4 separate regions of the Homo sapiens genome follow, and regions 1, 2 and 4 are each linked to region 3. Evidence: fine-mapped expression QTL. A gene starts in region 3. Each other region holds a variant in brackets. All regions are shown on one strand. Distances are from middle to middle. Region 1 has its middle 38 kb from the start of EWSAT1. Region 2 overlaps PAQR5 (progestin and adipoQ receptor family member 5). Region 3 holds the start of GLCE (glucuronic acid epimerase). Region 4 overlaps PAQR5-DT (PAQR5 divergent transcript).

What was found. PIP is the estimated chance that this variant, and not a neighbour inherited with it, causes the effect.
Region 1: its variant is the best candidate, but not a certain one, in a credible set for the expression of GLCE in subcutaneous fat (FUSION, PIP 0.64).
Region 2: its variant is the best candidate, but not a certain one, in a credible set for the expression of GLCE in whole blood (INTERVAL, PIP 0.84).
Region 4: its variant is the best candidate, but not a certain one, in a credible set for the expression of GLCE in esophagus muscle (GTEx, PIP 0.82).

What each region holds. Positions count from the first base shown.
Region 1 is chr15:69,117,615-69,120,300 of GRCh38, reverse strand. No RefSeq gene overlaps it. Among named protein-coding and RNA genes, the nearest start is that of EWSAT1, 38 kb to the right of the region's middle. RefSeq lists enhancers at 1-640, 2,210-2,686. The variant A/G (reference allele first, on the strand shown) is at 1,325.
Region 2 is chr15:69,380,238-69,382,923 of GRCh38, reverse strand. All of the region lies in intron 4 of PAQR5 (progestin and adipoQ receptor family member 5), which reads right to left. Among named protein-coding and RNA genes, the nearest start is that of KIF23, 33 kb to the left of the region's middle. RefSeq lists a silencer at 1,254-1,435. The variant G/A (reference allele first, on the strand shown) is at 1,125.
Region 3 is chr15:69,159,322-69,162,007 of GRCh38, reverse strand. GLCE (glucuronic acid epimerase) reads right to left here and starts at 1,373. Exons shown (of 5, transcript NM_015554.3): 1 at 1,251-1,373. It also overlaps the pseudogene LOC100421574. RefSeq lists silencers at 994-1,103, 1,304-1,513 and an enhancer at 1,211-1,711.
Region 4 is chr15:69,289,943-69,292,628 of GRCh38, reverse strand. All of the region lies in intron 1 of PAQR5-DT (PAQR5 divergent transcript), which reads left to right. Among named protein-coding and RNA genes, the nearest start is that of PAQR5-DT, 7.5 kb to the left of the region's middle. The variant G/A (reference allele first, on the strand shown) is at 1,534.

The DNA.
Region 1 (2,686 bases), 42 kb after region 3:
GGAGGCTAGATTATTAGGAAGAAAAAAGATCTAGCTGATTAATAATGTAAAACACCTGCAAGCCTCACAGACGTCCAGCTGGGAAACACACAAAAGCAGCAATTGATATCCAAAATAGCCACGGAGTTAGAGCTCAGGCTCCCCTGGGGTGCTCGATTCCTTTAAGTCCCACCCACCCCTGGGTTCCCAACACTCACCCCACCCTGATGAAACCATCTTCAAGATCTTTCTGGTTCACAGTGTGTCACTGCACTGTGTCTGGTGCTACTACAGAGGGAGTTCTCTTCTCCCTCCTGGAGAGTACACTATTATCAGATTAAGAAGGCTGTGCCTTGTGACTGGGGACAGCTCCAACGTTCCAGAATGATACTGGGAGGCTGTGTTCAATTAAGAGGCTAAGTTACTCTCTCTGTGGGAGCCTTTGAAGATCCCAGGTAATGGCTTCTATAATTCTACTCAGGTAATTGCAAGAGTCACAGCCTGTCTTTTTGCCTTCAGGCAGGAAGCAACTAGAGCAGAGATGGCAAATGTGGCTTGCACATGCTTTCAGGACCCTGCCCACATTGGAGCAGACATTTCCACACTGTCACATGCTGTCTGCCAAGACTGCAGTCAGCTGCCTTGGGATTCTTCACAAACTGACAATGCAGTGTACCTGGGGCACCTCTGAATCCACCCACATTCGTAGGTGAGACCTATTAGCCATCCCCGATCTCAACCATTCCCTTCAGTCTTTACTCCTCCCACTCTTTTTGTAGCTTTAAAGAAATATATTCATAAGAAATCCAAATAGCACTGTACATGTTTAACCCTTGAAATAACGAGCATATATATGTATATGTGTGTCTGTGCGTGTGTGTGTGTATAAAACGCTGTCCCTATTTTACAAAGGCAGAAAGTGAGGCTCGAAGAGTTTAAATATTTAACCCAGAATATAACAACTAACAAATGGTAGAGCTGGGATTTGAATCCAGACTGACTAACCCAAGCCCAGAACACAGCTTAATGGAGATGAAAATTCTCATAGGGATTAAGCCCTTACATAAATGATGAAACACTGACTCTGAAATTCCTGGCAATGGAGAGATAGGGAAATGGGGGTAGAATTGCCCCAGAGCCATATGATGTGAGCCTTCCTAGTGAGACTGAGATCTTAATTTGCTCTGCCATCAAAGGCTCAAGACATCATGTGAAGGCTTTAAAAGAAAGGGAAGCATGCTGTTCTGGGGCACACACATCTGTTTCTCCTTCTCTTAAGACGCTCTCTGCTTCCTGCCTGTTGGCTGTGTCTGAGCAAGGGTCAGGTCACCATGGTGGCCTCTGT[A/G]CCAACTGTCAGCTCTCTTCTTAACCCTAAAGATCCTGAGTTGCCATAAAGCTCACCATTTGCATATTTCCACCAGTCATCTCCCTGCAGGGAAACTTCAGACCTTTAAGTCATGCACCTGAAAAGGTTAGAATGAGGTAGGAGGAAGGTAAGCAAAGAATCAGCCCTACCCACCATCTGGAAAGGGTGGTGGTGAGACTGGGCCACAGGTTATGAGACCCTGGTCTTAGGACCACCCCCTGCAAAATGGAAGAAACCAGATGAGTTGAGTCTAGGGGAGCTCCTTATTCTCATTTCTCCTCCCCTTTCTGTGTCTTGACATCTCATCCACTTCTAGCCCCTTTCTTTCCTGGTCCATGCCTTTATGATACATGAATCCCCACCTCTGGTACCTTCCCTTCTACCATATGCCAATCAGCATAGACCTCTTCTCTATCAGAGAGGATGTAGGGGTGAGTTGGAGAGAGCAACTGCTCACTCTTTAAGCGCCTATTATGTGCAAAGTACTTTCTATATCTCATTTCATCTTCAGCCCTGTGAGTTGGTTGCACAAGCTGAATTTTGCAGTGGAGCAAAGGAAAGCTGAAAAGATGAAGTAATTTGCCCAGGGCCACAGAGGGAGAAGGAGGAGCTAGGAGTCGATGCCAGGTTGTCTGACTGCTCTACACCAGACAAGACATTCCCTCCCCTCCCCTGTCCCTGTCCCTTTCTGCACCTCCTCACAGTCCATCAAGCTGAGCAGTAAATCAGAGCTATAATGCTGATGAGTACCCCCCTCCTGGGTGACGTGCCCTTCTGTGGGGTTACTAAGGCGTCAGAATCACCCACAGGGCCAGTTAAACACAGATACTCCCTCCTCCAGATTCTGATTCAGGGGGTCTGCGGTGGGGGCCCAAGAATTTGCATTTCTAATAAACTCCCAAGTCATGCAGATGCTGCTGGGGATGGGATGGGGCAGAGACAGACCTCACTTTGAGAACCACTGCTCCAAATGTAAAAAGATTGAGTCTCCAATGATGGCATTCTCAGGTTTATAGCAGGAAAATATTTGGAGCTCAAGAGATTTTTCCAGAGACCCTGAAATTACATCAAGCAGGCAGCCGCCTCCTCATCCCCAGGCAGGCTGCTTTTCTCAAGTCTTTGTTCTTCAAGGTGAGCCAGAGAATGTGTTCTGTAACTTGATCTTTGGAGAAGGGAACCTCAGTGCTTGTGTCTCTAGTGCTGGTCTTGCTGTGCCGAGGGCCAGAACTGCCAAGCACAAAGGAAAAGGAAAAAGAAAACAGAGACAGCAGCTGCGGAGCTACCCCAGAGGCTGTGGCTCTAGGCTTTTCATTAGCTGGGACCCTATCTGCCCTCAGGGTC
Region 2 (2,686 bases), 220 kb before region 3:
CTGTCCTCCTGGAATCTATCTCCATTTGATTGGCCTTAGTTCCCTCCACCAGGATCATAGAAAACAAGCTTAACATATGCATATATATATATATATATATATATATATATATATATATATATGGTCATATATATATATATATATATGGTCACATATATATACACATATATATACACACATATATATATACACATATACATACATATATACATACATACATATATATATATATATATATATATATATATATATATATATATATATGCTTTTTTTTTTTTTTGAGACAGAGTCTTGCTCTGTCACCAGGCTGGAGTGCAGTGGCACGATCTCGGCTCTCTGCAACCTCTGCCTCCTGGGTTCAAGTGATTCTCCTGTCTCAGCCTCCCAAGTAGCTGGGACTACAGGCACCCTCCACCACGCCTGGCTAACTTTTGTATTTTTAGTAGAGACAGCGTTTCACCATGTTGGCCAGGATGGTCTCGATCTCCTGACCTTGTGGTCTGCCTGCCTCAGCCTCCCAGAGTACTGGGATTATAGGCATAAGCCACTGCGCCCGGCCGCCTGTCAAATATTTCAAGGCAGTCTTTCTAACCCCCTCCCACCTCCTTGAACTTCACATTAAATACTCCCGGTTCCTTCAGCCATTCCTCGCAGGATCTAAATGTGGCGTTACCACCATCCCCGTGGTTTGTCCTTCCTCCATGTAGTTTGTCTATGTCCCTCTTGTAGGAAGGCTCCTCAAATAGAAGCAATGCCCCAGGTGGAGCCTTGCAAGCCGAGGCCAAGAGAACTATTTTCTCCCTCCTCCTCCACACTGTTCCTCCACTAAGAGTACAATCACTTTTCGGAATAGCTAGTCCCACAGCTGACTCTTAGCAGAGCCTAGATCTCTATGCAGAGACACTTCAAAATTCTTCACCAGGTCTGCCTGGCCTACAATCCACGCATGAGGTCCCGCCTGCAGAGCACCTCGCTTCCACAAATCACTCCTAGAGAGCTGGCTCCCTTTCTCACTAACTCCTCCAAGGGAGGAGACTCTACAAAGCTTTTCATATGCAGGAGCTGAAGGAACATTGCTAAATCCTTCCAGCTACACTTGTGGACTTTTTAATTTTGTCCCAGCG[G/A]GAAGTAAAGCTTAAGCTATTTGCTGTTTCTCAAAATGTATCCTTCAGTTATTTCAATTTTTCAGTGGTCCCATTTCCTTAGGGCATCTTGATCCAGACCTCCCCAAGTCCTTCCTGCTACTCTCTGTTGCTCAGTCAGGATCATCTCTGAGAGCCTGGCACCGTGTAGAAGTGCATAGGCAGTGCTGGAGGTGATGGGGGTGCGGCTCACCCAGCTTGGCTCAGCTGTAACATAGCAAAAAATCACCCTACAGGGATCCATGCATGGAGTGCAAGACCCACAAGCAGGGATGGACAGGCTGGTACCCTTTTAGCAGCTCAAATCTCAAAACAGCCTAAATCAACCATGATTCATCCAGAAAATGGAACACCAAGCAGATGTTCCAAAGTCCAGGAGACATGCAGATTGCAGATGCTGACAGAGTGAGATCTCCAAGGGAGGGAAGTAAGAGGAAGGCAGCAGGGAAAGAGGCAGATGCTGTGGATGCTCACAGCACAGATGCTCCTGGGTCCCCCAGAAAAGCTCCAGGAGGACGCATAGGAAGCAGGTCCCCCTGGCCACTCCAGGGAGGAGAACTGGGGCCAGTGGCAGAGCCTGACTCTATTCCCTTCTGAAGGGTTATAATTTGTAAGCATGTATACTTTTAAAAATGACAAATGGCCCCTGGAGCAGGGCTGTGCTGCCACCCCTGCCCAGTCCGCAGGCCCAGGGCTGCCACACTCCTTTACAGATCACCCTAGTCCACACCAGACTGAGCTCTCTCCCCTCTCCACTGAGCTGGCTGCTGGAACCAAACAGCCTGCCCCTGCATTTTGGCCCCGGGTCTGTCATCTGACTTCTACTCAGGCTGGCTGCCCCTGTGCGGGGAGCCTGGGCCCATCTCCACTCATGGCACACTCCTCATCTCTTCTCAACATGACTGGAGGGAGTCCAGTGACCAGCCTGTGCCACGGCGCCCCTGCATGACGTAAGGACGCCACCCCGTCTCTCGGCTGTGTCTACATCGACCAGTGGTGGTCTGAGTGGGACAGTGGCTTGAATGGCCTCTGAGTTCTTCCAGCTCAGATCCACTGTGATTTGGTGCTTTGACCCTGTCTCCATCCTCCATTCCTTAAGCAAAGGTGTGCAGTGTGTGACATTGGCCTTCATCCCCCACCTTTCTCAGCAAGGCCCCTCTTCGCTTCCCTGGCCACTTCCATTTCTGCATACAGGCTTCCCAGAGCTTTGCTCTTAGCTGGCTCCATCTACAGGCTGCCTGACCAAGTGCCTCCCAGTTGTCGTGGTTCCCAGAATGATTACGGAACACCCACAACTCTGTGGCAGATGCCTCTACCAATGTTTTCTCCCCAAACCCTCACAGCAACCCTTGGGGAGGTGCGGACCATCACTCCTGCTTTGCAGGTAGGAAAATGAGAGGCTCAGAGAGGTTGACTTGCTCAAACTAGTGACATTTTAACCAGGGCTCCTGGAAGACCTGGAAAGTCTCCAAGACCGGAGATGAAGGTAAATGCTATCATATCAGGCACCGGAGCAGGGAGCAGGAAGGACTGAGGCACTTTTG
Region 3 (2,686 bases):
TCTGCCTAACATTCACTCAGGCAAGACTTCAGAACAGATCTAATCATGCAGGATGAGCAAAGCAGACCACCACCTAGGAAAGCAAGCCAAAATCAGTCTTCCCCACCCTCAACAGATTCCAGTTGCTCAGGAGCTGTATCCACGCTCAACCTGCGGACACCGGCCTCCTAAAGAACCTGCAGACCAAACGCCCACCTAAGGTGCTGCCACTCTAGCTCCCGGAGCTCCAGCGAGACCAGCGCGCCCCCACAGGGATCCCGGGGCAGAGAAAAGAAAACTGCAGAACAAACGCACTGCTTCTTCAACTAGGCAACAACACCGATCAATCCTCCAACTAAGCATTGAGTAAATCTCATCCAGAGAGAAGGAGACCTGAACAAAAACGTTTCAGGATGCTGCCCAGCCTGCGCGGTAGCACCAAAGCCCTCTCCCGCCCTCAGCGGACCCAGCGCCTGCGGAGCCGCGCCCACCCCGAGAGACTGCCCGGGGGCCAGCTAACTCGCCCCGTCGCCCCCAAAAGACTGGAGACCATGCCAAGTTACCGCCCCGCTCCGGGCAAAGCAGAAACCCCGGCCAGACGCTGGTCGCCGCTACACACCCTCAGCCCCCAACAACCCCCCAAGGCGGCCCCGGCCCCAGCGGAACGGATACATCGCTCTCTCACCCGGAGACACCGATGAACAGACCCCTCTCCCCAGAACCCGGACACACTGCTTCTTCATCCCAGCAATGCGAAACGGACGCCCACGCCCGCTCAAAGAACCCCCAAGACCCCGATGATCTGCCTCCAGAGACAAGGTTTACACCGGTGTAAACCTTGCTAAACTGCATTCTCTGCCCCAAAGAGCTCGGGACCCGGGTAAAAAGACCCCTTGTCCCGGAACCCCGCTACACCACCTCCAAGAAGCTCAAGACCCTGATAAATCTCCCTCGACGTCAAAGACCTAGGACCCCGTGTGCCGCCACCCACCCCTACCCCAAGCCGGAAGAGCCCCCAGGATCCCTAATACATTGCCCCCTCACCTCGGGAGCTCCGGCACCCGCTACACCGCCCTTGGGCGCCCGCGCCCGGATCCCACTGCACCGCCTCCTCGCCCCCCGGACTCCCAAACCCCGCCAAGCCTCGCGCCCACCAGGCAGCGCCGCGCAGCCCCCAGAGCCGCCCCCGTCAGGAGCCCGCCTGCTCCGGCTGCTCCGTGTCCCCGCTCCCCGACCGCTCCTCAGCGGAGACGCGCTCCGGGCTTTCTAACCTGAGCAGCGTCGGAGGGCGAGCAGACACGGGAGCCCTGAGGAAGAGAAGGAGACAGCAGAGAAGGGGTGGCTCAGGCCTGCGGTGCCGCAGCTCCAGCCTCTCGGCAAGGAAGCGCTTGTGTGAGGAGAGCCCTCCCGCTCCGCGCGCAGCCGGGAGACCGAGCCACCGCCGTGCCCGCAGCTCTTCCCGCGAGATCCCAGCCACGGCAAGGGGCGGGGCCACGGCGGGGGGCGGTAGCGGCAGCTCCTCGAGTGACAGTCCTGGCAGCCTGTCGGCTGCAGGACGGGCGGCAGGACTCGGAGTCTACTACGACCAATTGTAAAAAAGGAAAGGTGATTCTCCCCGCCCCTTCTCCGCCCCTCTTCTTCTCCGCTCCTCCTTAATAAACTGTGAGCAAAGGTAGTAGTGACCAGAAGTAGTAGGAGGCAGTGGACTTTCGCGGTAAGGTAGCTCGAATGACGTGACGTGCTTGGCTTGTGTGTGGTCCTGCTAGGCCGCCGTAGATACACCTGGTTTGGGGAAGAGGCTGGTCTTCACACCGGTGTAAACCGAGGTGCGGTTACCCTTGGTTACAGCGCTGCCCGAAGTGCGCTGGGGATTCCCATCTTCCAGGTTGAAGGCCCACCCACTCCGGTTACCCGCGTCTAAACCTCCATTTAATTCCTTTCCCCGATTTGGGCCTCTCCTCCCTCTCCACCTCAAACAGGGCACCATTGTTAAGATGCCCATGTTTTCCAAACCCCAACCCAGGACATCTGGTCTGACAAAGAACTCGTCTGATGACTGTATTTATTTCTACATACAGCCTTCCAGAAGAATGAAAAGCAAATCTCGAGTTACCAACATAACAAATTCCAAAATTAATGAAAAGTCGTACCTTTATAGACCCCAGTGCCCAGTAGTATTTGGCACACCCAGGGCACTGAATAATGTGAAAGGAATGAATTAAGACTGTTAAATATATGCAAATCTCGAGTTACCAACATAACAAATTCCAACATTACATGAAAAGTCGTACCTTTGTAGACCCCAGTGCCCAGTAGTATTTGGCACACCCAGGGCACTGAATAAGGTGAAAGGAATGAATTAAGACTGTTATACTTAAATATATTAAATCTGGACCTGGCCCCAGAAAATTCGGCTTTCCTAGCCTTTCCTCTATAATGTGAGCCAGTGGCTTCACCCTTAAATCCAGGCTCTTCATTATTATGCCTATCCTGTACCTTCATTCATCTTACCCTCTTCACTCCCTCACCCACAGCAAGAAGTGCCCTTTCTCCTCAAGGTTAAATCTTGCACCTGTGCCCTGGATCCCAGCCATTCCCAGATTTTATTCAGCTATTCTTTCTTTCCCCATTATTAATTTCTTCCTCTAACCTAAATCTTTCTCCCACAAACATAGTCTCGCCCATCCTTTGAACAGAACAAAGCCAC
Region 4 (2,686 bases), 130 kb before region 3:
GAAACTTGAAGCAACCTAAATGCCCAGCTCCAGAGCGCTGGTAAGCAAAGCATGCTCATGTTAAAAGCTAATAGTGAAGACTGTGGCAACGTGGAGAAATGCTGATGATATGGTGTTCGGTGCAAATTGCATTGCGCTGGAGCCCAGCTATGAGAAAATTGTGTATGTATGAATGAGAGATGGAGGGGAATTGCAAAAGTAAAAAGAAAACCAATGCCCATTTACTAGGTTTGGGGGATTGTAATTTTTTTTTATTTGTGGTGGTGTTATAATATTGTTTGTGCAATAAATATTTTATATGAAGAAATAATAATGATAATAATTTCTTGTACATCCAGAGAAGCCTCTTGAATGCACCTATTCCAGCACAGGTGTACCTGAGCATGGATCCTCACATGGACTGTCTTTCTGGAGTGTTTGCATTTGAAAGAAGCCTACACTGCAGCCAGGGTGACAGCTATTTTATTTTATTTATTTATTTATTTTTGAGTCAGAGTCTCGCTCTGTCACCCAGGCTGGAATGCAGCGGCATGATCTCCTGGCTCACTGCAACCTCTGCCTCCTGGGTTCAAGCGATTGTCGTGCCTCAGCCTCCCAAGTAGCTGAGACAAAAGGCGCTCACCCAGAGGCCTGGCTGATTTATTTTTTGTATTTTCAGTAGAGACAGGGTTTCACCATGTTGGCCAGGCTGGTCTCAAACTCCTAACCTCAAGTGATCCTCCCGCCTTGGCCTCCCAAAGTGCCGGGATTACAGGCGTGAGCCACCATGCCCGGCCGGTGACAGCTATTTTATTATGGGCAAGGAAAGGCCCTGAGCTCACCACCCGTAGCTGACCCCTTCCCCACACAGCCACCCACAGGACCACCAGCCTTCCTAGCTCAGTGCACTCTCCTTTGTGCAATGCAGGAAGGGGCAGACAGTCGTGCAGAGCTTACAGGCAACTCAGGCTCCAAGCCTCACTTTCTCTGGGCGGTATTTTACTCCATATTAAGAATATCTGGGCTGGTGCGGTGGCTCATGCCTATAATCCCAGCACTTTGGGAGGCCAAGGTGGGTGGATCGCCTGAGGTCAGGAGTTTGAAACTAGCCTGGCCAACATGGTGAAACCCTGTCTCTACCAAAAATACCAAAATTAGCTGGGTGTGGTGGTATGCGCCTGTAATCCCAGCTACTCGGAGGCTGAGGTAGGAGAATCACTCGTACCGGGGAGGCGGAGGTCACAGTGAGCCGAAATCATGCCATTGCACTCCAGCCTGGGTGACAGAGTGAGACCCCATCTCAAAAAAAAAAAAAAAAAAAGGATTATCTGTAGGGTCAGATGGGGATACTTTGAAAGAGTAAGAAGGGGGCCAAGGGGCCACAGCTTGTATGAGAGCTGAACCCAGGTGGTCTCAGCCAAGGGCACAGGCCTTCTACCTTCTGTTTCTGGGTCTTCCCCCTGAGATTGGGGAGGAGAGAGGTGACCAGCCGCTCTCCTGAGCCTCCTCTGCAGCAGGCTGGAGGGCTATGGACTCTTCTAGGGCTGAGACAGG[G/A]TGCTGACTCCAGGGAGGAGGGGGCTGGCACTGGGCCTGGGGCTTTCTTAACATCTGGGTGTGGACGTTTTGAAGTTGTGTTCTCAGGAAAGGCTTGAGGAAGCCTTGCTGTGTTCTCTGTTCCCACCCAGCTCAAAAGACGTAGGAAGTTCTCCCTGGCTGCTCTCCTGGGGCCTGGGCTGGACTTGCTGGCTGTGGGGCAGCTCAGGGCAGGCCAAAGAACCCTATGACATACCCAGTCTGCTCAGGGTGTGGAAGTCAGATTTACACAAAACATTCCATGGGAAGGGAAGGCTTCACTTTGATAAGAGGATTTAAAGTGATAATAACAGCCAATGTTTACCAAGCTCTTGCTACAAGCTAGGTGCCAAGAGCTTTGCAGGATCAGTATCTCATGTGGTACTCACCAAACTCCATGTCTATCACCATCCCATTTTATAGATTGGAAAGTTGAGGCTGTGACGTCTACAAGATCACACAGCTGGATCTCAAATCAGGACTGGCCCAAAGTTTGTGTTCTCAGTTGCTGTCTCCCGCTCTGAGGCCCACTGGCCCCCAGCCATGGCAAGCCTGGGCGTGAATTACCCAGTAGGTTTCACACGGTTCTTAGTACCACTTCTCTTAGTAATCAGAGAGTACATTTAGATTTTCAAAAATTAAATATAGATATAATTCTTCCTTGAACATATATGCTCTGAATTCACCACCACATATATCCTATAGCTAATGTTCAAAACAGGACTCCTATTCACTTCAACCAGCCAATCTGGAGGCTCTTACAGGATCGTGCCTTTGAGGCAAAAATGGTGAATATTCAGATAATGTGGGGAGCAGGCATTTTGTCCACTGTTCTTTTGGGAAATATAGAGTACTTCTAGTCCATTTCATACATTAAACCAGAAGGGACCACGGAAATCTATTAGCTATTCTAGGAACAGTAAGATCCTAAAAGGGCAAGTGACTTGCTTGTCACTTCAGGAATTAAAGGCTGACCTTGCATTCATTGCCACCTGTCCCGCTGGGGTTTCTTCCTCCTTAAACATTTTTGTGCAGTTATTTTGGGGGCAGTTTCTGACACTTGTATTAGAGAGTCCCTTTGGGTCCAGCTTGTCTCACACCTACCCTACGCAGTTTATTTTGGTTCTGTTGTAAA